Linked DNA regions of Homo sapiens. The protein of the gene in region 4 purifies or fractionates together with the protein of the main gene of each other region. This does not show direct contact. Each region holds a gene or a part of one and is shown on either strand. Other genes may lie near its edges.

Region 1 (6,993 bases), on a different chromosome or scaffold from region 4:
GGCGATGCCTCACTGATGGGCACACAGCACCAACTGCCTGCATAGCTAAAGCCTGCCCTCATTCCAGGGCTAAATTTAAAACAAAATTAAATTAAAGGAGCCACTTTTAATGGAACTCCTTCTGAACCACACCACAGGCTCCCACTCGCTTAATTAAATGGAGAATGCAGGGCGAGAGCTTTTCTTGCTGACGGAGGACGTGGTGATTGTCCTGTGAGGCGAGGTGACCAGGTGTGGAGGGACGTGGGCCGTCTGCCAGGGCCGACCCGGGACCCAAGGCCCGACCACGCCTCTGCGTGGAGCACCCTCCCCCTCCACCTGTCAGACGGCTCGCCTGGGTGCTGGGCTCTGTGTCCTGTTTTATAAACAGGTGGACCCGAGGGGGGCTGTTTCCTAATGACCCTCCCCGTCTTTCTTTTCATAAAAAGCCCTTTTTGGGTTCAGGCTGTTCTAGATAGCTGAAATGGTGGAAAATCTGGCTTCTGGCGATTTCTATAGTCACCACAGAAGACTTTGATCTTTAAAAAAGCCCTTTAAACTCCAATGTACGCCCGCGTCACTAGGGATCTTGTTAAAATGCAGATTCTGTCCCAGGTCTGGGTGGAGCCCAGGACTCTGCATTCCAACTAGCCCAGGGCAACCCCAATGCTGCCGGCCCTGGGGCCGCACCCCAGGCTGGGACGTGTCAGGGCCGTGCAGGGCAGGCAGGGAGGCTCTGGGGGCTGAGGGTGGCGCCTCCTCCCTCCACTGCACCAGGGCAAGGTCCTTCAATCCACGGGGCCCCTCTGGACCTGGGCCAGGCCCGTTTACTGCCCTTGGAGGGCACTGAACACGGACCCCCCACTTTCCCAGCAGCAGGGCCAAGCTGACCCTCACAAGGGGTTCACTTTCTGCTGGGCTGGGGCGGCCCCTCTGGAGACAGGCGACCGTGGGGCCTCCCAGGCCCCCTCATCACAAACATCGCTTCCCCCTCCTTAGGAAGCCTGCTTTGGTCTCCCAGAGAAGCCTGTGCTCTGTGAGTCTCTGTGTTAAGATTCGCAGCACTTAATACTCCCCCTTCCCTCCCTGCCTCCTTCCCTCTTTCCTTTTCCTCTATTACCGACCGCACAGCAGCTTCTGTGCCTCCCATCTGCCTGAACTGTGGGGGTGCAGGAGGGGCCCATCTGGATTAAGGTGCCCTGAGGGCAGGCGCCCTCTCCCTCGGTGACAGAGGGATGATTAGGAGCGTGGGAACCTGGGCAAATCGCCGCTCACAGAGCCTCAGTTTCTCATCTGTAAAGGGGGATATGAAAGGCTCTCCCTACCGCGTGTTGTGTGGGCTACGATGACACAGAGGGCCCTGCTCAGGGCAGCACTCGGGGTGGGGGGAGAGCAGGCACCGGCGCTGCCTGATGGTGACAAAGGTGACGATGACATACAGGACCCTGCTCAGGGCAGCACTCGGGGTGGGGGGAGAGCAGGCACCGGCGCTGCCTGATGGTGACGAAGGTGACGATGACGTCCTGCTGTGTCCAGTGCAGGACGGCCTCACTCACCGGTGGGTCTGAGCGCACGGGAGCGCGGATGGAGGGAGGAAGGAAGGGCTCACCTGTCCAGGTGGAAGGCAGCAATCTCCGCATTGTGCCTCTCGTAGTCAGAGAAATAAAAAAAGTCAGGGGGTGTCTCCTGCTCCCTCGTTTGTCTGAGAAAACAAGACAGAAACAGAAACGGTTTGTCACTGAGAAAGCCTCCAGGGGCCGGAGGCAGGCGGGACGTGCTGGGTTCCTCATATGAAAAATGCGGTGGAGCTCCAGCCTCCTCAGGGCCACCCTGAGCCTTCGGGACCCTGGGCACCCAGCTGCCGACGGGCCCTCAGAGCAGCGCAGGCACGTGCGACGGAGGCCGGGGGTCCCAGCTCCCCGTGGCCCTGACCCAGCTGCCGACGGGCCCTCAGAGCAGCGCAGGCCCTTGCGACGGAGGCCGGAGGTCCCAGCTCCCCATGGGCCCTTCTCAGGTAAGCTGCTCAAAGGCCTCTCCTGCACTGGCTGGGGGCCCCGGCACGTCCACCCTGGGACCCACAGTCACACCGCAGGGGAGAGGCTGGGCTCGGTGTCCCAGGCCTGGCTCAGCCCCGGTTTGCTGTGTGCACCCTGGCACCGCCCACCCTCTGGTTTCCGAGTCTCCCCCACGGCCTCCAGGACCCCTTGGCTCTGCCGTGGACGCCTCCCACAGTAAGAGCCCAAGAAGGGCAATGTGGGCACCGCCCTGTCCCTCCACCCTGGCCAAGGGACAGGAGGCCACAGGTGGGGCTGTTTATGAAAGGTCAGTGCCATTCTGTAAACACCATAGGGCTCCTGTATCTCAGGCCAATACTCCAGGGGAAGGGGAGCCTAGCCGCAGGGCCCTGTGAGGTGCCGGTCCACGCAAGTGTTTGACCGATGTGGTCATGGTGGAAACGTGGAGGAATTGTCAAGGTCGTGTCTGAGCATAAGTGTGTAAGCGCGTAAGCGTGTAAGCGTGTAAGCATGCTTCCTCCACCAAGGCCGGCCCCTGCCATGCTTCCCCCACCAAGGCCGGCCCCTGCCTCCACTGGAGGGAGAGCCTGTCCCAGGGCGTCCACCCAGGCCAGGCCCAGGGAGGGAACTCAGCCTCCAACCCAGGCTTCCTCCACCAAGGCTGGCCCCTGCCTCCACTGGAAGGAGAGCCCGTCCCAGGATGTCCTCCCATGCCAGGCCCAGGGAGGGAACTCAGCCCCCAATCCAGGAAGAATTTACCAGATTCAAACTCTGGTGACCTTTCCAGGTGCTGGAAACCAGAGCTGGCGGGAATCCCCAGCTCGCACGCCCTGCAGCCCACACCTCCCACTCAGGGCAGACTGTGTTCCGTCTGGGCTCCAACACTCCAGCAATGCAGACTACAGACGCCGCCCCGGTCACTTTCCCAGCCCTCGGCTTCCCCGGCCGGGTCCTTCCTTCCATATACGCAGCGGAGGTCCGCCCAACTCCTGGGAGCATCCTGGCCCTGCCACGGGCCGACATCATCGCCACACGAACAGCGGGGTGGGGCACAGGTCCTGTATGTCATGTCCACGTCCCTTCGGGGGGACCACGTCTGGGTCACAGGCCGTCAATTACACACCAGCCCGTGGCTCCCGTCCTCCCACGCTGTTCTCAGAAAGCTGTGGCCACAATTCTCCGTGTTCCCGGAACGTTTCTTATGGGGGGTTAAAGATGTGTACCACCCACGGCCTTTTTAAGAACTAGTCTCTGCTGCTAGAAACTCTGAGAACAGACCACTTTCCACGATCCCACATAATATTCGCCTTGACAGGGCCCTGGGTAGGCGCAAGGCCAGATGAGGATTCCAGGAGCTACTTAAAAATAAAATGCGGATGGTGGGCTGGCGCCTGAAGGTCACATTTGCTTCATAACCCCACTGGGTCTGTGGCCATTGCTATCTCTGTGCACTTCTGAAACCAGCAGCAAAGGAGGGTTGGGGTGCAGGGCAGGGCAGTGGCAGGTATGGCGGCAAACTGAACATGCTGCCCGCCAGGGTCGCCCTGCAGAGCCGAGGCCCAGACTGGCCGGGATCCTGAGGTTCAAGAGAAAGAATCTAGACCTTGTGGAATCTCCCGGGTTTTAAGCGCTGGCAAATGGATTTCATTTTTCTAAAACACTAAAGGTCAAACCAAATGGTCCGCTGCAGTCAGCCCGCAGTTCCAGGGGTGGTAAATTCTGGAGTGTTGGATATTTTTGAGGTTAAAAAGCCTTCGTTGTTTTCAACTTGGAAGGATTGGCTTTGAGCAAAACTCATTCCACAGAACACTAGTTCTACTAGATTTTAGTAACTTTCAGCTGGAAAAAGGGAACTCCAGATGGAGGCAAGATTTCTTTTCTGTAAACTTCGAGCCTTACGTCTGCACAGTGACTCCCCAGAACGGCCCAGCATGAGTCCAGGAGTTCAAGACCAGCCTGGGCAACATAGTGAGACCCCAGGTCTACGAAAAATAAAAAAATCAGCTGGGCGTGGTGGCACACACCTGTGATCCCAGCTACGCGGGAGGCTGAGATGGGAGGATCACCTGAGCCCAGGAGGCCAAGGCTGCAGTGACCACTGCAATCCAGCCTGGATGACACAGTGAGACCCTGTCTCCAAATAATAATAATAATAATTATTATTATTATTATTATTATTATTTTCTTTAGAAAATCCTCAGCTACTTATCAGTTGGGCAGTCAGAATTCACTGTAGGCCCCTGGAGCAAAGGCCTGCACCACTGGGTGCCTGATAAAGCCGCTAGGAAACTGAGCTCCTGGGACATCCACTGCAGAGGCGGCGCCCAGGTCTCCTGGGTGGCACAGGTCTCCCGGGTGGCACAGGTCTCCCGGGTGGCACAGGTCTCTTGGGTGGCACAGGTCTCCCGGGTGGCACAGGTCTCCCGGGTGGCACAGGTCTCTTGGGTGGCACAGGTCTCCCGGGTGGCACAGGTCTCCCGGGTGGCACAGGTCTCTTGGGTGGCACAGGTCTCCCGGGTGGCACAGGTCTCCCGGGTGGCACAGGTCTCTTGGGTGGCACAGGTCTCCCGGGTGGCACAGGTCTCCCGGGTGGCACAGGTCTCTTGGGTGGCACAGGTCTCCCGGGTGGCACAGGTCTCTTGGGTGGCACAGGTCTCCCGGGTGGCACAGGTCTCTTGGGTGGCACAGGTCTCCCGGGTGGCACAGGTCTCCTGGTTAGCACAGGTCTCCTGGTGGCACAGGTCTCCCGGGTGGCACAGGTCTCTTGGGTGGCACAGGTCTCCCGGGTGGCACAGGTCTCCCGGGTGGCACAGGTCTCTTGGGTGGCACAGGTCTCCCGGGTGGCACAGGTCTCCCGGGTGGCACAGGTCTCTTGGGTGGCACAGGTCTCCCGGGTGGCACAGGTCTCTTGGGTGGCACAGGTCTCCCGGGTGGCACAGGTCTCTTGGGTGGCACAGGTCTCCCGGGTGGCACAGGTCTCTTGGGTGGCACAGGTCTCCCGGGTGGCACAGGTCTCTTGGGTGGCACAGGTCTCCCGGGTGGCACAGGTCTCCTGGGTGGCACAGGTCTCCTGGTTAGCACAGGTCTCCTGGTGGCACAGGTCTCCCGGGTGGCACAGGTATCCCGGGTGGCACAGGTATCCCGGGTGGCACAGGTTTCTTGTAGGTACTGTCTTGGGGGGCAGCTGTTCTCGCCCTGGCCAGGTCCCCTGGACACACAGCCACTCCACGTCCCTCTGAGCCTGCCCCTTGGTGTGGGCACCTGGAGTCACCTCACCCCCAGCCTGGCCTGTCCATCGGTGCTTCCTCTGTGATGGACGTGACCTTCTGCGCTGTCCAACTCGGCAGCCAGTGGCCACACATGGCTGTGGGACACTCGAAATGTGACCAGAGCCTCCAGAAACTGAGTTTTAAGTCTGATTTTATCTTAAATCTAATGGGCACACCTGGCTAGTGGTGTGCAGTGCAGCTCTGAGAATGGGGCCTTCTGAGGCCTCTGGTGTCTGCCCACTGTCCATCCCGCTCCCTGGCCAGGATGGAGGGGGCCGAGTCCACCCCCTCCCCCAGCTCACTGGCCCTGCCCCCAGTGCACCGAACAGTGCTGTCTCCCCAGCCTGCAGCCCAGCCTGCCCTCCCTTCCCACCCTCCTCCTTCTGCTTTCTCAGTCAGGACTGTCCTGGCCACCGCCTCCAGGAAGACCCTCTGGAATCGTTCCGTCCTGCGGACGCCCCTTGCCCTGTACACACAAGGCCTGCAGAAGGGCATTTGTCAGATCCGCGTCCCCGGACCCACAGACAGCACATCTCCAGGTCTGGGTGTTCATCTTGCTGCTGCCACTGACCCTCGCCAGCCCAGGTTCCAAACCCCAGAGGGAGAAAAAGAGCAGCTGCCTCCCAGAGCTGTTGCGGGACGGGCACACACAGGGCCTGGTACACTGCAGGAGCTCACCGTGTGGTGATGTGGACGTCTCAGTAGCAGGCGAAGTACAATGGGATGTCCCCGCAGAGCTCTCCAGGCCTGCCAGAGCGCAGGGGGCCTCTGGGGACACTGAGGCCCAGGGAGGGGCTGGCCCAGGCAATGTCCACTGAGCGTTGGCATGGGGCTGGGCCTGGATGCTGAGTGGTTTAGTTCTAACCACCCACTACAGTATGCATACGCACGCACACACACAGATGCACATTAACACGTGTGCACATGCACACATGAACACTCATGCACACACACATACCCACTCATGCACACACACACACCTGCACGCTCACAAACGTACACACGGGCACACACACAGATGCACATTCACACGTGTGCACATGCACACACACTCGCTCATGCACACACACCCACCTGCACACTCAGAAACACACACACGGGCGCTCACAGTGGATGCACATTAACACGTGTGCACACACATATGTGCACAGATACATGTGCGTACACACATTCATGCACATGTGCATCCATACACTCGCACACTCACAGATGCACACGTGTGCATGGACATATATGCACACTCGCAGGAGTGCACACACACACACACACACACACAACCCCCACAGAACAGTGCTGTCGGAGGCCTCTTGGTGAGAAGGGGACTAAGACCCGGCTCCATCGATCTTTCCCTGGCACAGCCTTGCAGCGGGGCTGGCTGGGAAAGCGCATTTAGTGGCCCTGAAAAGGCGGAGTCTGATTTCCTCCCTGCAAAGAGACTCAAAGCTCACGCAGAAGACGAACGACTTGCTGACTTGAGTCACCTGCACAAATCCGGTCATTAAAGCACATCCCATCTGGCGGCTCCCATCTGACCCTGTGTTCTGCTCCCGGGCAGAGGGCAGCAGGCAGTGAATTCTACTCTGGGCTCCGCTCCCGAGGCCCTCGGGCCACTTCCTGCCACAGCTGGGCTGAAAGCCCCAGGGAAGGGGCCAGACCCAGGTGACCCCAGCAGGAGGAAGCAGGGAGGGAGCAGCCCCAGGGGCAAGGAAGAAAGCAGCTTCCAACAAACC
Region 2 (4,698 bases), on a different chromosome or scaffold from region 4:
AGAGGTTGCAGTGAGAGGAGATTGCGCCAATGCACTCCAGCCTGGACAGACTGAGACTCCGCCTCAGAAAAAAAAAGGGGGGGAGGGGCTGTTTAGTCCAGTATCCCCCAGCAAGGCCCATCACAATATATACTATAAGCATTAAAAGTATTTATGGAATAAATTAACTCTGCAACTACAAAAAAGGTGATGAGCTTTTATATACCAATTAGACAACTGTATTTGTATAGAGAAGCTAACTTTCCCTTTGCCTGAACTTCTAATTAAGAGGTCCTTCTTTACCAATTGGGAGGAAAAGACGGCAAACACCTTGAACTGTCCGGTGAGGCTTCAAAACCTATGTCCTAGAAACATCCACGTTACACTAAATGTTTCCTTTTATACCATATTTTTAAGAATAATGTAAAAAAAAGGCTGGGCGCGGTGGCTCACGTGTATAATCCCAGCACTTTGGGAGGCCGAGGTGGATGGATCACCTGAGGTCAGGAGTTCAAGACCAGCCTGGCCAACATGGTGAAACCCCGTCTCTACTAAAAATACAAAAATTAGCCGGGCATGATGGAAGGTGCCTGTAATCCCAGCTCCTCAGGAGGCTTAGGCCGGAGAATTGCTTGAACCAAGGAGGCGGAGGTTGCAGTGAGCTGACATGGCGCCATTGCACTCCAGCCTGGGTGACTGAAACTCCGTCTCAAAAAAACAAAACAAAACAAAAAAACCCCCAGAACTACAACTGAGAGGAACTTAACTGTTTCACATTATGATTAGGACTGAAATTAGCTACCTAACACTTGTTTTACAGGACTTACCTGAGTACATAAGCTTCCTGCTTGTCAGTTTTTGTCACACTTATGATTGAACATTGCACATCCTTCAAAAGTATGTCCCACTCAGATCTATCATTTAACAAAAAAGTTACGATTAATCCACAATAGTACCCACCTACTCATAAAAATTACAAAGCTCACACTTTTTCTCATGAAGACCACATTTTTAATTAATATTGTACACCAACTTTTAGTTTCTTTCAAAATAATCTATATTGACACACCCAGATAAATGATAGGTATATTATGCTATATATGAAACAAAAATTGGTCATTATACTATGTATTTACAAATTACTTAAAGAAAAATAGGCAAAAAAATGTTCAAAGGTCCATAAACCAAGGTAAACCATTAACTAATCAATGATTACAGAAATTCAATGGGATACTTTGTCTATAAAATGTGCAGATTTTTAACCTTAAGAAACACTTAAAAAAAAAGAAGAGCATAATTTTACCAATCTAATTGGCATAGAAATTTAAAAGCCTGTCTGTCGGGACACAGTGAGTGATGTTACTCTTATAGCACTCACAAAAAACTGGAATGACTGCCAATTACAAGCATACCTAGAAGATTTTGGGAATACTACGCAGCTCTCCAAATGCAATGAGAAAGCCCGTTTAACAGGAAATGTGCAGTACAAGCAACCATAGCAATGAAGGTCATATGGACATGAAGAAACTAGTCTTAATTTGCCTGAGAATAGAATTAGGAAAGTGTTCATTCTTTCATTAGTGTGCCCATTATAAAAAGACAATGTAATTCCATGGAACAGCTTAACATGACAGATATTATTTTTTGAGACAGGGTCTCACTCTGTCGCCCAGGTTGAAGTGCAGTGGTGCAATCACAGCTCACTTCGGCCTTGACCTCCCAGGCTCAAGCAATTCTCTTGCCTTAGTCTCTCAGGTAGCTAGAACCACAGGCATGTGCCACCATGCCCAGCTGTTTGCCAGAAATATTTTTTAGGCCAGGCGTGGTGGTTCACGCCTGTAATCCCAGCACTTTGGGAGGCCAAGGCGGTGGATCACTTGAGGTCAGGAGTTTGAGACCAGCCTGACCAACATGGTGAAACCCTGTTTCTACTAAAAATACAAAAATTAGCCGGGCGTGGTGGCAGGTGCTTATAATCTCAGCTACTCAGGAGGCTGAGGCTGAGGCAGGAGAATCGCCTGTAATCCTAGCACTTTGGGATTGGGATGGCTTAAGCTCAGGAGTTTGAGACCAGGCTGGGCGATAGAGTAATACCCTGGTCTTTAAAAAAAGAAGAAAAATTTTTAAGCCTTATGATATCTGACAGGCCATTGCTCTACACTCATAAAAATGGCAAATCTTTTTTTTTTTTTTTTTGAGACTGAGTCTTGCTCTGTCACCCAGGCTGGAGTCCAGTGGCATGATCTCTGCTCACTGCAACCTCCACCTCCCAAGCAGCTGGGATTACAGGCACGTGCCACCACACCTGGCTAATTTTTGTATTTTTAGTGGCGACAGGGTTTCACCATGTTGGCCAGGCTGGTCTCATACTACTGACCTCAGGTGATCCGCCTGCCTCGGCCTCCCAAAGTGCTGGGATTACAGGCATGAGCCACCGTGCCCAGCCGGCAAATCTTTTGTTAACCAGATAAGACCTTTTGAGCGAAATCCAACAGCAAAATGTTTTTATTCGTTTGTATTAAAAAGCAAACACAACACCAAACATGCCTGGTAGAATTTTGTGCCTGTCTCACCATTTTGCTACAAGAAACTGTTACTGACCCATCTGCGTACCAATACCCATCCAAAAATCTTTAATGTGAAAGGCTTGCTAATGATTACAGAGCTGAGTTCCTGTATTAGACTATAACATGACTAAGCAACTTTTTTAAAAGAGCTACTAAAAAGTTTTAAGGTTCTTTAAAAAGGGTGCTAACAATTTGTTCATATATGGAAAGAATACATATGTGGGATATATACTGTGACAACCCTTGAAATTACCCCTGGCTTGTGTGGTGGCACACGCCTGTAATCCCAGCTACTCGGGAGGCTGAGACAGAAGAATCACTTGAACCCTGAAGGTGGAGGTTGCAGTGAGCTGAGATCTTGCCACTGCATACCAGCCTGGGCAACAGAGGGAGACTCCGTCTCAAAAACAAACAAACAAAACAAAAACAACAAAAACTTGGCCAGGCACAATGGCTCATGCCTGTAATCCCACCACTTTGGGCAGCCGAGGCGCATGGATCACCTGAGGTCAGGAGTTTGAGACCAGCCTGGCCAACATGGTGAAACCCCATCTCTACTAAAAACACAAAAAATTAGCTGGGCGTAGTGGTGGGCGTCTATAATCCCAGCTACTCTGGAGGCTGAGGCAGGAGACTGAATGCGGGAGATGGAGATTGCAGTGAGCCGAGATCGCACCACTGCATTCCAGCCTGGGCGACAAAAGTGAATCTCCATCTCAAAAAAATAAACAAACTACTCGTGGGAATGAAATCCTGCTTCACTTGACTAAGATAAATTTACAAAATCCTTGCAAAAATTATCTACTATTAAGACTCCCATTCCTGAATATGAAGGTAAATAAAAATATCCACTATGATTTAAGTATTAGAAACATTACAATTTCAGATTTTTAAAGAGCTTATCTAATTCAGGTCCATCAATAATGCTACCTGCTTAAGTCATCACCTACTGACTTCCCACTATAACTTATTCTTGCACATACTCCTTTTTACCCACTGGACGCACTAACAAATCCCACCCTCCCTTTCTCAGTTATATTCACCATTTCTATTAAGACTTTTAAACACGTTCCATGGCTGAACTAAACAGTGTAACAGTCTTTTCCTTTCTTATTTTTGTTTTCTCTTTTTTTAAAGGCTGTTGTGGCCAGGCACTGTGGTTCAGAGGCCAAGAAGGAAGGATCACGAGACCAGAAGTTCAAGACCAGCCTGGGCAACATAGCAATAGCCAGTCTCTTAAAAAGAAAAAAGGCAGCTGGGAGTGGTGGTGCAGGTCTGTAGTCCCAGCTACTCGGTAGGCTGATGTGGGAAGTTTGCTTGAGCCCAGGAGATGGAGGGTGCAGTGAACCATGATCACACCGCTACACTCCAGCCAGGGTAACAGAGCAAGACCCTCTCTTAAAACAAAGTATTCACCCTTACAACTTGTAGCACAGATACTTTAAAGTCTTGGTCCATGTCACCTTGAGGTTGGTGTCTGCTGTCTTTTCCTTTGAGATGTTAAGATTTTCCTGGTTTTGAGTATGTTGACTAATTTAGGATGGCATCCTGGATATTTTGACATGTTACATCATTCTAGGTCTTGATTTTTAAAAACTTTCAGCAGACAATCTGGTTTGGTTTAGGCTTCAAGTTTTTACTCAATGTTTCTAGGTTGTGTTATGGTTCCAGTGTCAGGTTTGTTATGAACTCCTTTGCTATGTTATTTGCATCTGCCCCACTTATTTGCCACCCAATGGCCAGGCTGGCCCTGGAGAGGCAGTCTATTGTGTATTCTAGTTTTCAAAGCCTCTGATGTGCTGTTTAGGGTCAGATCCATGCAAAATGGCTAAGGAGTGTTCATATAAAACTTTATAGGTTTACTTTCTTCAACCTTCCATAATCTCTCTGACAATGCCTGACTCACATAGGGGATAGGGGAAGGACTCTTCTTCATCCACTACCTATAAAAATAGGGCTTTGGCCGGGCGCAGTGGCTCACGCCTGTAATCCCAGCACTCTGGGAGGCAGGAGGATCACAAGGTCAGGAGATCAAGACCATCCTGGCTAACAAGGTGAAACCCCGTCTCTACTAAAAATAAAAAAAAAAAAAATTAGCTGGGCATGGTGGCGGGCACCTGTAGTCCCAGCTACTTGGGTGGCTGCGGCGGGA
Region 3 (7,873 bases), on a different chromosome or scaffold from region 4:
AAGGCCGGCACACTCAAACACGCTGCCACCTGGCGAGTTATGGTGCATCGCTAAGAGCCTCCAGGATGACCCCTCTTCTGCCCACATGGAAGTGTGACGCCACATTTTCCTTACACATTTCAATAAAGCAACTGGAACACACGGAATGCAGAAGCAGGTCTGAGAATCCAGCCGTCACCTCTTAAACCTCATATTTTAAAAGGATGTGCAAAAGTGTAAAACAACACTGTTCTTCTTGCTTAATCTTTTTGTTTTTGAAAAGTTGTTTCTCATTAAAAAGGTTATGTTAACATGTAGTAGATTCTTTTAAAGTAAAATAAATATTGTAAGTTGTTCTGTTTTAATTTCAAATATAGAAAACATCAACAGCGATAACCAGCACAAACAAAGGCTCTCTGGATCCTCAATATAACTATTAAGAGTATAAAATTATTCCAGCACCAAAAGACTTTGCAAACCAACTCTAGGTCAGGGTTTAGCAAACCACAACCTGGGCGACATCTGGCCAGCTGCCTGTTTTCTGTAGGCATGCTCCTGTGGAAGCAGGGCACAGAGCCACGCCCATCCATCTCTGCAGGGTCTATGGCTGTCTTCCTGCTAAAGGCAGAGTTGAATTCAGTCGTTGCAACAGGGACAGGATGGCCTGAAAGTCTAAGATACTTACCATTTGGCCCTTTACAAAAAAGCTTGGCCACCCCGAAACTAGAGTAAGCCCATTTTCCCAATCTTTATTATTGCAGTAACTTCCTATCTCCATTCTTACCCACCACCATCCACTCTCCAAAGGGCAGAGTGACCTTGTTAAAAACAAAGCTGATGTCGCTCCTCCGCTTAGGATCTGAAAAGCTCACAATCACTCAGAGTCCTGAGCACACGATTCAAGTCCTTTATTCATCATCCTGTGGCCCCAGCCAGCCTCCTGCTCATCACAGCCACTCCCTTTTCTGCCAGAGGACCATGCCAAGCACTGACCTCTCAGAACATACCATGCTCTGTCCAACCTCCACACCAAGCACTCTCCACCTGGAACATTCTCCTCCCCTTCCCTTCCTCCCTCTTCTTATACCCTGATGTCCTCCCCTCCACTCCCTACCCAAGTCTGTGTACTGGGTACTTCTTCACATTGCCTCAGTGTGCTCTGGTCCAGCCATGGTGCAAGGACCCACCTGCTTGTCTGTGTCCAAACAGCGTTTCCTGAAGGCAAGAACTGCATTTCTATTTCCAACAGCCAGCACTAGCAGCCCTTTGGTATGCTGTCGTGAACTTTTCAGATGTGCCAAGCTGAAAGCTGGCCCCTGCATTACCCTTCATTTTTCTTAAACTGGCTCCCTGAAGTGACAGAGTCAGCTATTTTCCTATGCAAGAGGGTCTCTTAAGACAACAGCCTCTGAACAGTTACCAGTTAACGTGTTTGTTTGTCAGAGCTTTCCATACATTTTCTGGAATCTTCACAGCAACCCTGTAATGGTCACAAGTAATAGTACCCGTTTAACAGATGAGAAAAGAGTAAGTAACTTCCCAAGTTAACACAAAGCCTGAAGAGGGTGAAAAAGGGATGTGTACCAAATTCCACGTGCACAATTCCTCTCCATCACCTGGTAATATCATGACATTCCATATGCTGACTGACATCCAGTGGGAGAGACGAGCCTAATAATACATGTGATAAAATAAGGGAACCACAAGCAGGACACAGCCAATTGCTAAACAACATGGAACACAGTGTGAAAGGGAAATCTGGAGTCTAAGACGACACTGAACGCTGAGGGGAGCTGGAGCAGGGACTCGCCAAGTGGGATTGGAGGTGGATTTAGAAGGATCAGCAGGGCTTAGGGAATGGACAGGAAGCAAAATAAATACTCTAGGCAAAGAAAGAAACAGGAGCAAAGATCAAGGGATGGGAATAATCACTGAATAATAACGTAAACATTAAGAGGCCAGGCCCAGTGGAAGGGATCTGGGTAGATGGACATGAAGCAGGTAAGGAAAAACAAGAAACTGCTATTTTTGTGTTTAAATATAGCTAAAACCAAGCCCCAATACTTTAAAATACAAGAGAATTAACAGTTGTATCTAATACTTGAAAAGCACTTTTCAAGTTGCAACAGCACTGCACATTGTTTGATCTTAACAAAAAGCTTCTGATTTAACTTCTAGATAAGCGAGCTGAAGCTCAGAAAGGGGCCCTCAGAGTTGAAAACAGCAGACACAAACCCAACCTGGAACTTCCCATCAGAACAGCAGACTGCTTAAAATCAGGGAACGTGGAAAATCACCAGGTATGATTCAATACCACCACATATCTTGTAAACTTAACTTCACGATGTAACGATGACCAGGCCAGCCTCCTGAGCGTTAAGATGTGGCTGTACTAAGCATGATGAGTCTGTGAATCTTTTTTTTTTTTTTTTGATATGGAGTCTCGCTCTGCTGCCCAGGCTGGAGGTGCAGTGGCGTGATCTCCGCTCACTGCAAGCTCCGCCTCCTGGGTTCATGCCATTCTCCTGCCTCAGCCTCCCCAGTAGCTGGGACTACAGGTGCCCGCGACCACACCCAGCTGATTTTTTGTATTTTTTTTAGTAGAGACGGGGTTTCACCCTGTTAGCCAGGATGGTCTCGATCTCCTGACCTCGTGATCCGCCCGCCTCGGCCTCCCAAAGTGCTGGGATTACAGGCGTGAACCACTGCGCCCGGCGAGTCTGTGAATCTTAAGGCATACAACTGACTTCCTAAAGGCAGAGGCTTCCTATGAAGCTCTCATAAGTCAAACTGCAAAATATTACTAGACTGTTTGCTTGTTTGATGGCCTTCCCCAGAGGATGCTTTCCTGAAGGTTCTCTTCAATGGCACAGATATAAATATTAAGTAAATGAAAATTCTACAATGGAATATAGAAATCAGACCGGAAATAATTCAAATAAGCAGACACCATGTCCCATTAAGACCAAAAAAAAAATATAAATGAATAAATACCAAATGCCCATTATCTGTACACAGAAGAAATCAATAAATATGACTGACAAGTTTTGCATTCACCAACACCGTATTTCATTGATTCTAAGTACATTTCCCCACATCTTAGTATCTCTGAAATTAGATGTAGATTTTATATATACATATAAAAGACATTATAGGAGATTATATATAAAAGACACACCTAATTTCAAAGATTATATATATACATATATAATTATTATTATTTTTTCTTTTTTCTGAGACAAGGTCTCACTCTATTGCCCAGGCTGGAGTGCAGTGGTGCAATCATAGCTCATTGCAGCCTCAACCTCCCTGGCTCAAGCGATGCCCCCACCTCAGCCTCCTGAGTAGCTGGGACTACAGGTGTGTACTACCATACCTGGCAAACGTCCCGAATTTCTTTCTTTTTTTTTTTTTTTTGGTAGAGACAAGATCTCACTATGTTGCCCAGGCTGGTCTCAAATTGCTGGGCTCAAGGGATCCTGCCATCTTGGCCTCCTGAAGTGCTGAGACTACAGGCGTGAGCCACCGAGCCAGACATTATCTTACATTCAATGAAACAGTAACTTTCTGGTGCTGATGCTACAGTTAACTTAATTTTTGTTACCTTTCTGCGACTTAAAATGTTTCTTTCAAAGTACCAATGTAAACTCCCTTGGAAAGGCTATCCTACCAGATTAACCAGATATCTATGTTACTTACATAACTCCCCAGACTCAAGCTTGACTTAAGCAAACAAACCTTTAGTTTTGTTTAGTCTATCTCTTTAGAAACAGGTTAATGTCTAATTCAAAGCAACAGATCATGGATTAAGAAACTGATTAAAGCAAAATCAACAAATAAAACCCCAATACACTTAAAACTACAAATTCTGAGAAGAAAGGAACCAGCTGTTATCAAGCTATAAAGCTATATAAAACCAGGTTCAATATAAGACCCTCCTCCCCCAACCCCTCCCCACGGTTTCTCCATAGGAGCAATTAGTGTAATATATAAAGGAGCAAGACCCATAGCTTCCCTGCAGGTAAGCAGGTTGCAGTCATGTGGAAAGTGACATCACAGGCAAAGGTGCTGCAGCACTTGCTTGACGTGCAGGTGTTTCACTTACTTACTGTCTCTGTGGTATCTACTCTTCAAATAGTTTGAGAATTGGTTGGAAAGTGATGCTATTCTTGAATCCTTGTTACTAATCTTCTATCATTTTGACACAGACTTCCTTTAAAGGCATTCCATTTTCATTTGCCTTCAAAAGCATTTTCACACGCCTCTTGGTAGTAAGATTTTCACCGAGCTTTAGAAGAACAGCTCCATCCCAAGGCTGGACGGCCGCATGCCACAGTGGGGCTTCATCAGTACTGTGCTGGCTGCAAATGGTCGCTGAAGCAGTACAGCGCTCCACGGCTCTGCGGCCAGTCGGCGTGGCTCCAAACCCTGGCCCTGCCATACACTCGCTTTGTGACCCAGGTTAATTGCTCCCACGCCTCGGATTCTGCATCTGAGACTGGGAAGAACAGTATTTCCTTCCTTCTTCGGTGGTGTGAAGATTCACTGACATAGGAAAAGCACTGCGAGCAATCTCTAGCACAGAATGACCACTCAGCAACTGTTACCTATCATGACCTTCGTGCTGGGTCCTCTACAAGGGCTGGGGTGGGAAGGGGGACAGCCAGCCTTCAAGCTTGAGGAGCTCAGTCTACCAGAGAGAGAAGCAAAGGATGAAATACCATGTGACATTGCAAAACACATCACATGCTGAATGAAGTACGTTCCAGGAGAGGGAGCAGGGGCTGGGTGAAGGTGATTCCATAACATGCAGAAAAAATCTGCACAACAGTTAACAATTTCCAGAAAGGAGCCACCGTTTAGAACCGCAACATCGTGGAATTAGAAGCTAACAAACAACTTTTCTACTTGCTTCCTGCTGGAAGCCCCCTGGTTTTACTATTTTAACTCTTGGTCAACTCAGCATATAAACTCACCTAGTCCCACCTTCCAGCAAAGGGAGGAGATGCAAGTCACCACTGACTGCTGCTTATACACCTGCTCATCAGCAGGACACTTAATAACTTCCTTGTGAGCTCAGCTCTACTCCTACCTGCAGGGGGATGGGAAGTCTGATGACCCAGTGGAATCACAACTCTTAGCAAAATGACCTGACCCATAGCTAAACCCAATTCTTTTAAAAAAAAAAGGGGGGTGGGGTGCGCATCAAATTTTACATAGGCCAGCACTTTCACCATAGGTTGATTCTGATTCCCCAGCCCAAAACTATTAGTTTTAAAAACAAAACAGAAATCAAAACAAAAACCAAAGGCTTTTCTATGTCACTCACTTCATGACCTCCAAAGTCAGGAGTGCCTACTCCTAGCCCTGCACCACTTCCTGTGCACTGGGCATCACCCCACTGAAGTCAGGAGAGGACCCAGGCCTTAATCTCTAAGGCTCCTTCTCCTTACCCATTGCAGAGAGGGCAGAAAGACGGCCAGAGTGCAGGGCTGTAGTAAAGCTCTACAGAGCTGAACTTGGCCCAGAACAAAACCTTCAAGAACAAAATGCCTCACAAGCCACAAATCTAAACAAACAAAATCTGCTATACCTTAAGTTCTACAGCCTGAGCAGCAGTGCACGATAAAAACCCCTGTGAACTGCCCATCTCTCTTTTTTTTTTTGAGACAAAGTCTTGCTCTGTCGCCCAGGCTGGAGTGCAGTGGCACGATCTCGGCTCACTGCAAGCTCTGCCTCCCGGGTTCATGCCATTCTCCTGCCTCAGCCTCCCAAGTAGCTGGGACTGCAGGCGCCCGCCATCACACCCGGCTAATTTTTGTATTTTTAGTAGAGACGGGGTTTCACCGTGTTAGCCAGGATGGTCTCGATCTCCTGACCTTGTGATCTGCCTGCCTCGGCCTCCCAAAGTGCTGGGATTACAAGCGTGAGCCACTGCGCCCGGCCATCTCTCTCCTTTTTTTTTTTTTTTTGAGACGGAGTCTCGCTCTGACGCCCAGGCTGGAGTGCAATGGCACCATCTCGCCTCACTGCAACCTCCACCTCCCAGGTTTAAGCAATCCTCCTGTCTCAGTCTCCTGAGGAGCTGGAATTACAGGCCGGCCCTGCCACGCCTGGCTAATTTTTGTATTTTTAGTAGAGATGGGGTTTCGCCATATTGGCCAGGCTAGTCTCAAACTCCTGACCTCAAGTGATCCACCCGCCTCAGCCTCCCAGAGTGCTGGGGTTACAGGTGTGAGTCACCGTACCCAGCCACCCATCTCTTATCTCTCACCAACATCTCTCCCTCAAGGTTGCGTTTGGGCATGACCAGCTTCTTGATCCTTGCTGCTCAGCAATCCCTGGTGACTAACGACTACACTTCCCTTCATCATCACTGACTCTCTGGTGTTAATACAAAGCAACGGTATCACAACTATGGGACAAATCGATGGTGACTTATAAATGTGTTAATCTGGATGGGTTACTATGGCCAAAGCATACATGGATTAAAATAGACAGCTCTGAATACACAGAATAACCAAAACACATGCAGATAATTACCACAAAGCAATGTTACAAAAGAAACCACGACAACTCGAAATACCAAACTTTTGGATTTACTCAAAATTTAACTTAAAATAGGGATTTAAAACTGCAAAAAGTTCCCATCAGTTTAATTCAGAGAACAAAGTATTTGTCAAGATTTTTTTTTTTTTTTTTTTTTTTTGAGATGGAGCCTTGTTCTATTGTCCAGGCTGGAGGGCAATGGCACGATCTCCACTCACTGCAACCTCCACCACCCGGGTTCAAGTGATTCTCCTGCCTCAGCCTCCCAGGTAGCTGGGATTACATGCATGTGCCACCACGCCCGGCTAACTTCTGTATTTTTAGCAGAGACGGGGTTTCACTGTGTTGGCCAGGCTGGTCTCAAACTCCTGACCTCAAGTGATCTGTCCACCTTGGCCTCCCAAAGTGCTGGAATTATAGGCATGAGCCACAACACCCGGCCCAAGATTTTTTTTAAAGAAAGAATACTATTTTCATATGTGTACAGTCACATTTAAAATATACTACCTTAGTTATACTTAAATTTTAATTCATTCAGCTTATCAATAATTTTTTTTTTTTTAAGTAAAGAAACCAGGCAGGTGCGGTGGCTCACGCCTATAATCTCAGCACCTTGGGAGACTGACGTGGGCAGACCACTTGAGCCCAGGAGTTCAAGACCAGCCTGGGCAACATGGCGAAATCCCCTACAACAATACAAAAATTAGCCTGGTGTGGTGGTGCACGCGTGTGTGTGGTCCTAGCTACTTCAGAGACTGAGGTGGGCGAATCGCTTGAGCCTAGGAGGCAGAGGTTGCAGTGAGCCCAGATCGCACCACTGCACTCCATCCAGCCTGGGCTACAAAGTGAGACCCTGTCTCCAAAAAACAAAATAAAGAGTTAACAGAAATTAAGGCAAGCATTAAGCCCTCTCACTTTCCTACTCCCAAACAAGTTTTGCTTTACTTGCGACAGAAATCACACTTGAGTAAGGCTGAACTGTCACTTGCTTAGCATATGCAAAATCAAACAAAAAAAGTAATGCATTTTAAAGAAATAAAATCAATAAACTTTTTAGATCACATAAAATGCACCTAGTTTTAATCTCAAACCATATATATTACGCATTTCTTAGAGCCCAGTTTCACCTGCTTAATAACCTAGGCCCTGTTTGTCCCAGGGGGCGCAGAATCTCCAGATGTCCTCAGGGGTCATGTGCCAAACCAGACACTGCCAGGGAGAGGTACAGGGTAGGGAAGAGGGAGTAAAAGTTCACGGGGTTGGGGGGGCCGAGATGGAGGGAAGTGAACAGGACGTCTGACAAGGGGCTTTTAGTAACTTGAGGCAGGGAAGGTGTATTTGGTGC
Region 4 (8,560 bases):
AGAGCAGAGGTTTAGCTTCTTACCTCTTAACATGAATATTCCTCATAAACTGTCTTGATATAGACTGATAGCTATAATCAGCCCTAAAATTAACTCAAGATAATGATACTATCATTTACTGAGCACTTACTAATACACTAGATGCTTTACATGTATTAGCTCTTTAATTCTTAATAGTCTTATGAGATAGTTATTATCCCCATTTTGCAGATAAGGAAATTGAGGCTCAGAGAAGCTATGACAAAGGACACACAGCTGGTATGTGGTAGAGTTAAGATTTGAACCCAAGTCTGTTTTTCTTAAGAGAAACTGTCTCACTGTTAGATTACTTACAGTGCTGGGCTCGGGGGAAAAAACTCAAATATAGAATTATCTTGTGTGCATACTGTATGTAGGGGAGAAGATCAATATTATTATTAGTTGACCATTAAATGTGTCCATTTAGAATTGTTGAAACATACATGGATTAAGAAAGAGTCTCATGTCATATCACTATACAGATGCAGCTTTGGGACAACAATTCAGTATTGGGTGCTATGGCCTGCTATAATTTCAAACTCAGGACCAAGGCACTACAAAATAATTTTGTCTATCATCCTCTAGTACAGACAGCTATCTTACCACTTCTGCCTTCCATCTACTTCAAGAATTGCTTCTTAAGCATCTTTTCCTCCTTTGGCCCTTAATCTCTCTCTTTACCACTCCTTGCTGGAAATTGTTCTCCATTTACCCCATTCATTTTACCACTATTCCTCTATATACTATTTTCAACACAGTCTTGATCACATAAATATTTTGTTTGCTGAGAAGTCTACTAAAAGCTGGATGCTGCTTTGTGAATAAGAGCTTTAATCCAAACTGTAGTGCTGACACTCAACGGCCAAAGGATTGAAAGGTTACATCCATGGTGCTCCAAACTTCTGCACCCCCTCCCGGCGAAGGTCAAGAGCAAAGATTACAAAAGCCTGGCACCACAGGAAAAAGCCACCTCTCATCTTCAGACATCTTATCAGTAAATAATTCCATGTTAATTTGTATTTATTCACCTAGTCCTTCTTCTCCACTGAATCCACAAGCCTGGAATTCTTCATTAGATGTGGCATTTTTAACACAGAAGTTCTTTTACATCTTGATGTTCCAGAATTTTTTTTTCCAGAGTCTCCCTCTGTCACCCAGGCTGGAGTACAGTGGCACAATCATGGCTCACTACAGCCTTGACTTCCCAGGTTCAAGAGATCCTCTCACCTCAGCCCCCATGGATAGCAAGGACTACAGGTATGTGCCAACATGCCCAGCTTTTTCTGTTTTGTTTTTTGTAGAGACAGGGTTTTGCCATGTTGCCGGGCTGGTCTCGAACTCCTGGGTTCAAGCGATCTGCCCCCTTTGGCCTCCCAAAGTGCAGGGATTAGCCGCCCTTTGAGCCACTGCACCCAGCCCCAGAATATCTTTAAAAGTTCAAATTCCGGCTGGGCGCGGTGGCTCACGCCTCTAATCCCAGCACTTTGGGAGTCTGAGGCGGGCGGATCACCTGAGGTCAGGAGTTTGAGACCAGCCTGGCCAACATGGTGACACCCTGCCTCTACTAAAAATACAAAAAATTAGCCGGGCGTGGTGGCAGGCACCTGTAATCCCAGCTACTCGGGAGGCTGAGGCAGGAGAATGGCGTGCACCCGGGAGGCAGAGGTTGTAGTGAGCCGAGTTTGTGCCACTGCACTCCAGCCTGGATGATAAGAGCGAAACTCCATCTCAAAAAAATAAGTAAAATAAAAGGTCAAATTCCAACTCATGCTTAATATACCCTTGGGCTTGGCGCACTAGACATTATTCACACAAATCCAAGCCAGGCTTGTATTTGCTTTCTCAAGTTATTCCACACTCCCATCTTACAGTAATCTTTCTTAGAGGCCCACCCTTAAACCTGCTCCACCCTGGCTATAAAGGAACTCAACCCAAACCTCTAGCAGGCTGTCTGGGGAGGAACTGCCCTTTTCTTTGAGACCTTGACATCACATGTTTCCTGAAGCAGGATGGGGTTGCTAAGAATCAGAGCCAGGAAGGGTCTGGTCAAAGCTTTTCAGGGAAAGGGCTGAATCACACATCCTGTGTGATTGAACCTGTCATCTGTCTCTGGATCCTTTCCACAGTCCCTAGATACCAGTATATTCCACAGTGAGACCAGGATACATGTCTAATTCTAGGCATCCTCCTTTCTAGCCTCACATCATCTGTACAAGCCTAATTTTTTCTTAATTTGTGGGGTTGTTGTTTTTTTTCCTTGAGACAGGGCCTCACTGTCACCCAGGCTGGAGTGCAGTGGCACAATCATGCCTCACTGCAATCTCAACCTCCCAGGCTCAAATGTTCCTCTAGTCTCAACCTCCCAGGCTCAAATGATCCTCTGGTCTCAGCCTCGTGAGTAGCTGGGACCACAGGTGTGCACCACTACACCCAGCTAATGTATTTTTATTTTTTGTAGAGACATGTCTCCCTGTGTTGCTCAGGCTGGTCTCAGTCTCCTGGGCTCAAGTGATCTTCCCATATTGGCCTCCCAAAGTGCTTGATTTTTTGCAACTTTCTGCTGCTCTTAGGATCCAGATCCCTTATCACAGCCTACAAGTCCCTGCTTCTCATTAGCCTCATACCCTGCCATTTCCCACAATGCTCATGAGGATCCAGCCATACTGATTTTCCTCTGTTCTTCAATTGGAACCAACTTGTTTTCACCCTCTAGGCATTTGCACCTGTTGTTCCTCTGCCTAAATCAGGCTTCTCCCTACTCTTCTCATGCCTAGTTTATCTTATAGACCTGAGCTCAAATGGCACTTCTTCAAAGATACATTCCCTGACAAGTCCATGGAAAGGGAAGGTTTCATTGCCATTCTCTATCTTAACAACCTACTTCATCCTTTGATAGCACTTACCACAATTCACAATTTAACTGTGTGTGCTTATTTGTCTCCCCTACGAGAACATATGTTCCATGAAAGTAGGGGTTTTACCTATCTTGATCACATCTGTATGCCTAGTACTCAGTAGGTGCCAACATTTGGCACCTAATATTTGTTCAATGAATCTCTACCCACACCATTTTCTCTTTCCTAAATCAGAATGCACTTATCTGCCTCAATGCATGACCTCTTTGCTCCTTCTGCAAGGTCAGTTTCAAGTACTACCTCCTCCATGAGGCCTTCCAACAGTCTCTTCACTTCAAGAAATGAGCCATTTCTTCTCATAGGTCCTGGGAGCCCTACTGTTTGTCCTTTCCAAAGCACTTGGCATACTGTAACATTATTATGTAATTATCTATCCATTCCACTATACTGGGAACTTCTAGAGGTCGGAAAAGTATTTGCTTCTATATACCCAACCCAAACACACTGCCTGGCACTCAATTAAAATCCAGTGGGGAGTCAGAACAGCAAGATGATTAACACACAGGCTTTGGGCCTGAGAGCCTGGGTTTGATACCTGGCTCTAGCAATTACTGGTTGTATGACATGGGTAAGTGACTCTGATCCTCAGTTTCTTCACCTATCAAGTAGGCATGTTAATACTACCTAATCTGGTAGTTGTGAGGATTAAGATAATGTTTATAAAACATTTTGTGCAATGCCTGGCACACAGTAATCTCACAGTAAGGGTTAGGTACGAGAATATTTATTGTTTTGCTTGGGGAGGGGATTAAGTCCTGTCCCTTTTCATCTCAGACTAGTGAAGGCTACAGATTGATCTCACTAGGTTCCCAAGAATTCCTTGAAGTTGATGACTGTCTGCATTCTCTAGAGAGTCCTACACTTCAATAGCCCACTGTTGTCCTGCAACAATGTCTGATGCAAATGTTAAAAGCAAAATCAAGCATGATGGGGACAAAAAAAAGTTCCAAAATACACTTAGTCCCAGAATCCCAAAGTAGCAATATGGCCCAAGTAGAAAAACTATTGGGGGTACAAGGATATTGGAATACTGCATTTAAAGACTTAAGAAGTTACCGACAGACTTTAGAATCAGACAGACTTCAGCTGCAATCCCATCTCTGCGACCCACTATCTGTGTACCATTTGCAAGTTACTTAACCTCTCCGTGCCTTAGTTTTAAAATTAGGCTAATTGCATCAAGACAGTTAAGATAGTAGCTTTCATTAAGAAATACAGTAGCACATGTTCACAGAGCCAGGTATACAGACCCTCAGATGTAAGCTTATTTATGTCCTTTCTGAGGCCTTATAAGTTTCCCCAACTCAGCAAGCTGTACTCTAAGAGCAAAACGCCACTTAAATAGCCCTCCACAAGAATATAGCTGGATATGTCTCTACAGTTTTCAGAACTATCACAAGCAATAAAAGTTTCTGTGAAAGATAGGTGATGGCACATCACTCAGTTGTCCTGGGGCCTGGGAAAGATTTCTCAGTAGGCACCAAGGCAATCTGTTCTTAAGTTGATGCCCTAAAGGGAAGTAGGCTTGGCGCTGGCTTCTCCAAAGCTTGCCATCCTTTGAAAACCAAGCCTAAAGAAACAACCTGCCCACAAGGCAACAAAGCCTGACAGTAAACCCACCAATTCCCTTTTCTCTACACTCCTCTCCACTTCTCTCCCTTCCAGGGCAGTATGGGGGCATAACAACTCACCTCTGTGAGGCCTTGCCACATTGGTCAAGGGCTTCACCAGCCTCACCATGGTGGCCCCAATGGTGCGGTTCTCTCTAGGGTGCCCATGCGAGTCAGCTGAACGCCGGTACAACTCCAGCATGTACCGCAGTGAATGCCCTAGGAGCCGGGGCTTCCTTGGCTGTTCGCCAGGGGATTCTTCTAGCAGCTCCTCAATCAGGGGCAAAGTAGGGGCCTCAGCCAGAAGGGCAATAGAGGACTGCCCTCCTTCTGCCATTTGGGCCCTGTGTTCCATGAAAAGCACGAGTTCACAAAGAAAAAGAATTCTAAGAATACTGAGGAGGACCATCTTGAAAGGCTTAGTGTTCAACAACAGGCCCCAACACAAGCCCAAGGGACGTCACTCTGACCATTTCCTTTCATGCAGATAACTGCATCCTGGCTCCACAACCAAGGATGGGGCAAGAAAAAGAAAGGCAGGCAGGCCCTATGTTGCTTTCTCTAAGAGGATCTCCTGGACCAAAGTTGCCTCATAACTTGGCCTCTTTGCATCAAAAGAAACAGAAACAGAAGGTGGGACAAGGCAGCATGCCCCTCCCGCTCTCCCGGGCTGAGAACAAGATAGTACCTATTGAGAGGCTCAGGTAACTTAAAAGGAGAGGTCCATTTCAGGACCCACTTCCTTAACTTATCCACTAGAATGAAAAAAAGCAGCCTGATCCTACTTGCCCCTACAGCCTTAAAAGTAGTCCCTTAATCCATCCTTAAAGGGCCAGAGGCCTCCTGTTCCCATCCTACTTCCATGCCTCTAATGCAGCATTTCTCAAAATATTGTCTGCTAATAATCTGCAGTGAAACTATCTGGGGTGATTATTAAGAATGTAGACTCCTGGGTCTGAACCAGGATTCTCTGGGATGGCGTCCAGAAATCTGGCTCTTTACCAGTGCTCCAAGAAGTTCCTATGAAAACCTAAAATGTGGAAACTACTGAGTATGGCTGCTGGAGCTTGAAGAAGATGCCGTAACAGTGGTTCTCAATCTTGGCTGTAGATTGGAATCATCTGGGAAGCTTTAACTATTATGAATGCCTGGGTACCATTCTGATGTAATGGGCCTGGGTTGTAACTAGTGCATCAGGATTTTTTTAAGTTCACAAGTGATTTTAATGTGCAGCCACGTTTAAGGACTCTGACTTATAATTTTCTGGTTTACCTTGGAAGGTGTTGAGATCCTTATTGGGCTTCATTAGAGAAGCCTGAGGAAGGGGAAGAGTAATCTATGGGAGCTAACCTAGCCCAGATGGTTAATGTGAAGCAGCAGGGCTCGGCCAGTTTTAAGGCTGCCTCAGACCATTATTCTGCAGAAAGATAGTAGGTATAGTCCTGGCCGTACCGAAGTAGAAACATATGGGGATCTGGAGAGAAACTGGGGAAGCAGGTCAAGACCTGGCTCTAGGAGATGATGAGTCAGGCTTGATTTGTGGGAGGCCTTTACCTTACACCAGGAGTATCTATGGACAGACATTACTGTGGAACAGGCGTGGACTTGGTAATCAGGCAGATCTGTGTTTGAGTTGCAATTCTGTCCCTAGCTGTAATTTAACCTTTCCAAGGCAAATTTCTAGCTGTAATTTAACCCTTCCAAGACAAATTTCTTCACTTCCCTACACCTTAGTTTTCTCATCTGTAGAATGGAGATAACACGTTTTACCTCACAGGTTGTTGTGAGGAAGCAAGGAAATAATCTATGTTAATTGCACAAAGCCTAATTAGACACAAGACATAGGGTTACATGTTCAAATTTATTTGTGCTCTTCCTCTGTTTTTTTTTCTAACATGACCTTGGGCCCTGGCATGTAGTGTAAAACAAAAGGCATAGGTTTACGGGTCCTCTACATCTGGACTCAAATTTCAGCTCAAAAACTCATTAGCTGGGTTACTTTAAGCAACATTTCTCCCAGACTTAGTTTCTTCATCTATACTGCTGGCTCCTTCAGAGAGCTGTTGTGAGGGTTGTATTGTATAATATACAAGTAAGGGATATAAACAGATGATTCACAATAGGCAAAATTTAGATGGTCAAATGTATGAAAAGATGTACTGGAAATCAGAAAAACGCAACTGAAAACAACATTAAGATACTATTCAACACCCAGTATTGATAGCACATTAAATGGATCGATAGCACATTAAAAGTCTGGCACTATTAAGTTCAGGTGAGGATATGGAACATAGGTATAATATATAGAATATCTATATAGATATTCTATATAGAGAGATTCTATATAGAGAGATATGGAACATCTCACACTGCTGTTGAGAGTGTGATTTGGTATAATAATTTTGGAGAGCAATCTGGCATTATCTCTGTTAAGGTTGAAGATATACAATTCAGCAATGCTATTGCTAAAGCAGTAGCAGTTTTAGATACTTTTGTCTGTGACTTACAAAAATGAATACATTTTACATTGCTACCCATTACAAACACAAGCACACACGCATATATACCTTGAAGTAAATCTTTTCTGAAACAATACTTATTCTTACAACATATTGGAAGAGGCAATACAGTTGACCCTTGAACAACATGGGGGTTAGGGGTGCTAACTCGCCCCCCCATCTCCCATGCAGTCAGAATTTGGTATAACTTGACTCCCCAAAAACTTAACTACACGTCAACCTTGAACAACATGGGTTTGAACTTCACGAGCCCACTTAAACACGTTTTTTTTTTCCCACCAAACATGGATCAAAAATACAGTATTCTCAGGATGCAAAACCCGCTTACATGGAGGACTGACTTTTTGTATGTGTGGGTTTTGAAAAATAGACTGCACGCGACTTGAATATGTGCAGACTTTGGTATCTGCAGGAGGTCCTGGAATCAATCTGTCATGTATACAGAGAGGAGGGATGACTATACTAATAGTCCGCTGTTGGCTAGAAGTCTTATGGATAACAATCAATTAACATATTTTGTATGTCGTATGTTTTATATACTGTATTCCTACAATGAAGTAAGCCACAGAAAAGAAAATGATTTTAAGGCCAGGGGCAGTGGCTCACACCTGTAATCCCAGCACTTTGGGAGGCCAAGGAGGGAGGATTGCTTGAGCCCAGGAGTTCCAGACCAGCCTGGGCAACATGCTGAAACAACGTCTCTATGAAAAATACAAAAATTAGCCAGGATGGTGCATGTACCTGTGGTCCTAGCTACTCAGAAGGCTGAGGTGGGAGGATAGCTTGAGCCCAGGAATTCGAGACCAGCCTGGGCAACATGCTGAAACAACGTCTTTATGAAAAATACAAAAATTAGCCAAGATGGTGCATGCACCTGTGGTCCTAGCTACTCAGAAGGCTGAGGTGGGAGAATTGCTTGAGCCATAAAGGCGTCACTGAACTCCAGTCAGCCTGGGTGATAGAGTAGGACCCTGTCTCAAAAAAATGATTTAAAAACATAAAATACGTTTACAGTATTGTACTGTATTTATCAGTACTCTAAGTTTTACATCGTCTGTCTGAAATGGCAGGTAACCACAGCTGCAGATCTCAATCTATGATACATATTAACCAATTCAACTTTTTGTTGGAATGTCATGACTTTGCTTTTTAGGAGCACTTCTGGCAGCAGTAGTGGCACTTCATGTGAGTCCCACGGTGTTATTCATGGTTTACAGTATTGCACTAAACACGATGAAATGTACATGGTGAAACGTACAGGAGAACTACCAGAGATGGCTTTTTTTTCTTTTTTGAGCCAGAATCTCACTCTTTTGCCCAAGCTGGAATGCAGTGGCATGCTCACAGCTCACTGCAGCCTCAAGAGAGATCACTTTTTATCTCCATATGCAATTTATTGTTAAAGCAGACCACTCAAGGGGAGATGATTAGCATCACATGGTGGCATTTTAAGCAGATACTCTCAACACTTGAGCTCACCACCATGGCAAGAGGAGGT

The links.
Region 1: the proteins of BMP15 (region 4) and FAM20C purify together in Homo sapiens (co-immunoprecipitation; one large-scale study listed by IntAct). This does not show direct contact.
Region 2: the proteins of BMP15 (region 4) and AMD1 purify together in Homo sapiens (affinity purification with mass spectrometry; 3 studies listed by BioGRID and IntAct, with this or other methods). This does not show direct contact.
Region 3: the proteins of BMP15 (region 4) and PPP2R2D purify together in Homo sapiens (affinity purification with mass spectrometry, with the first as the bait; one large-scale study listed by BioGRID). This does not show direct contact.

The regions. Positions count from the first base shown.
Region 1 is NC_000007.14:241,103-248,095, reverse strand, and holds part of FAM20C (extracellular serine/threonine protein kinase FAM20C precursor), read right to left. Parts: intron 1,682-6,993; coding exon 1,589-1,681; intron 1-1,588. UniProt on the Homo sapiens protein: Golgi serine/threonine protein kinase that phosphorylates secretory pathway proteins within Ser-x-Glu/pSer motifs and plays a key role in biomineralization of bones and teeth.
Region 2 is NC_000006.12:110,883,700-110,888,397, reverse strand, and holds part of AMD1 (S-adenosylmethionine decarboxylase proenzyme), read right to left. Parts: intron 894-4,698; coding exon 807-893; intron 63-806; exon of another isoform or gene 1-62.
Region 3 is NC_000010.11:131,902,282-131,910,154, reverse strand, and holds part of PPP2R2D (serine/threonine-protein phosphatase 2A 55 kDa regulatory subunit B delta isoform), read right to left. Parts: intron 1-7,873. UniProt on the Homo sapiens protein: Substrate-recognition subunit of protein phosphatase 2A (PP2A) that plays a key role in cell cycle by controlling mitosis entry and exit. Involved in chromosome clustering during late mitosis by mediating dephosphorylation of MKI67.
Region 4 is NC_000023.11:50,907,176-50,915,735, reverse strand, and holds the start of BMP15 (bone morphogenetic protein 15 preproprotein), read right to left. Parts: upstream 5,002-8,560; 5' UTR 4,953-5,001; coding exon 4,625-4,952; intron 1-4,624. UniProt on the Homo sapiens protein: May be involved in follicular development. Oocyte-specific growth/differentiation factor that stimulates folliculogenesis and granulosa cell (GC) growth.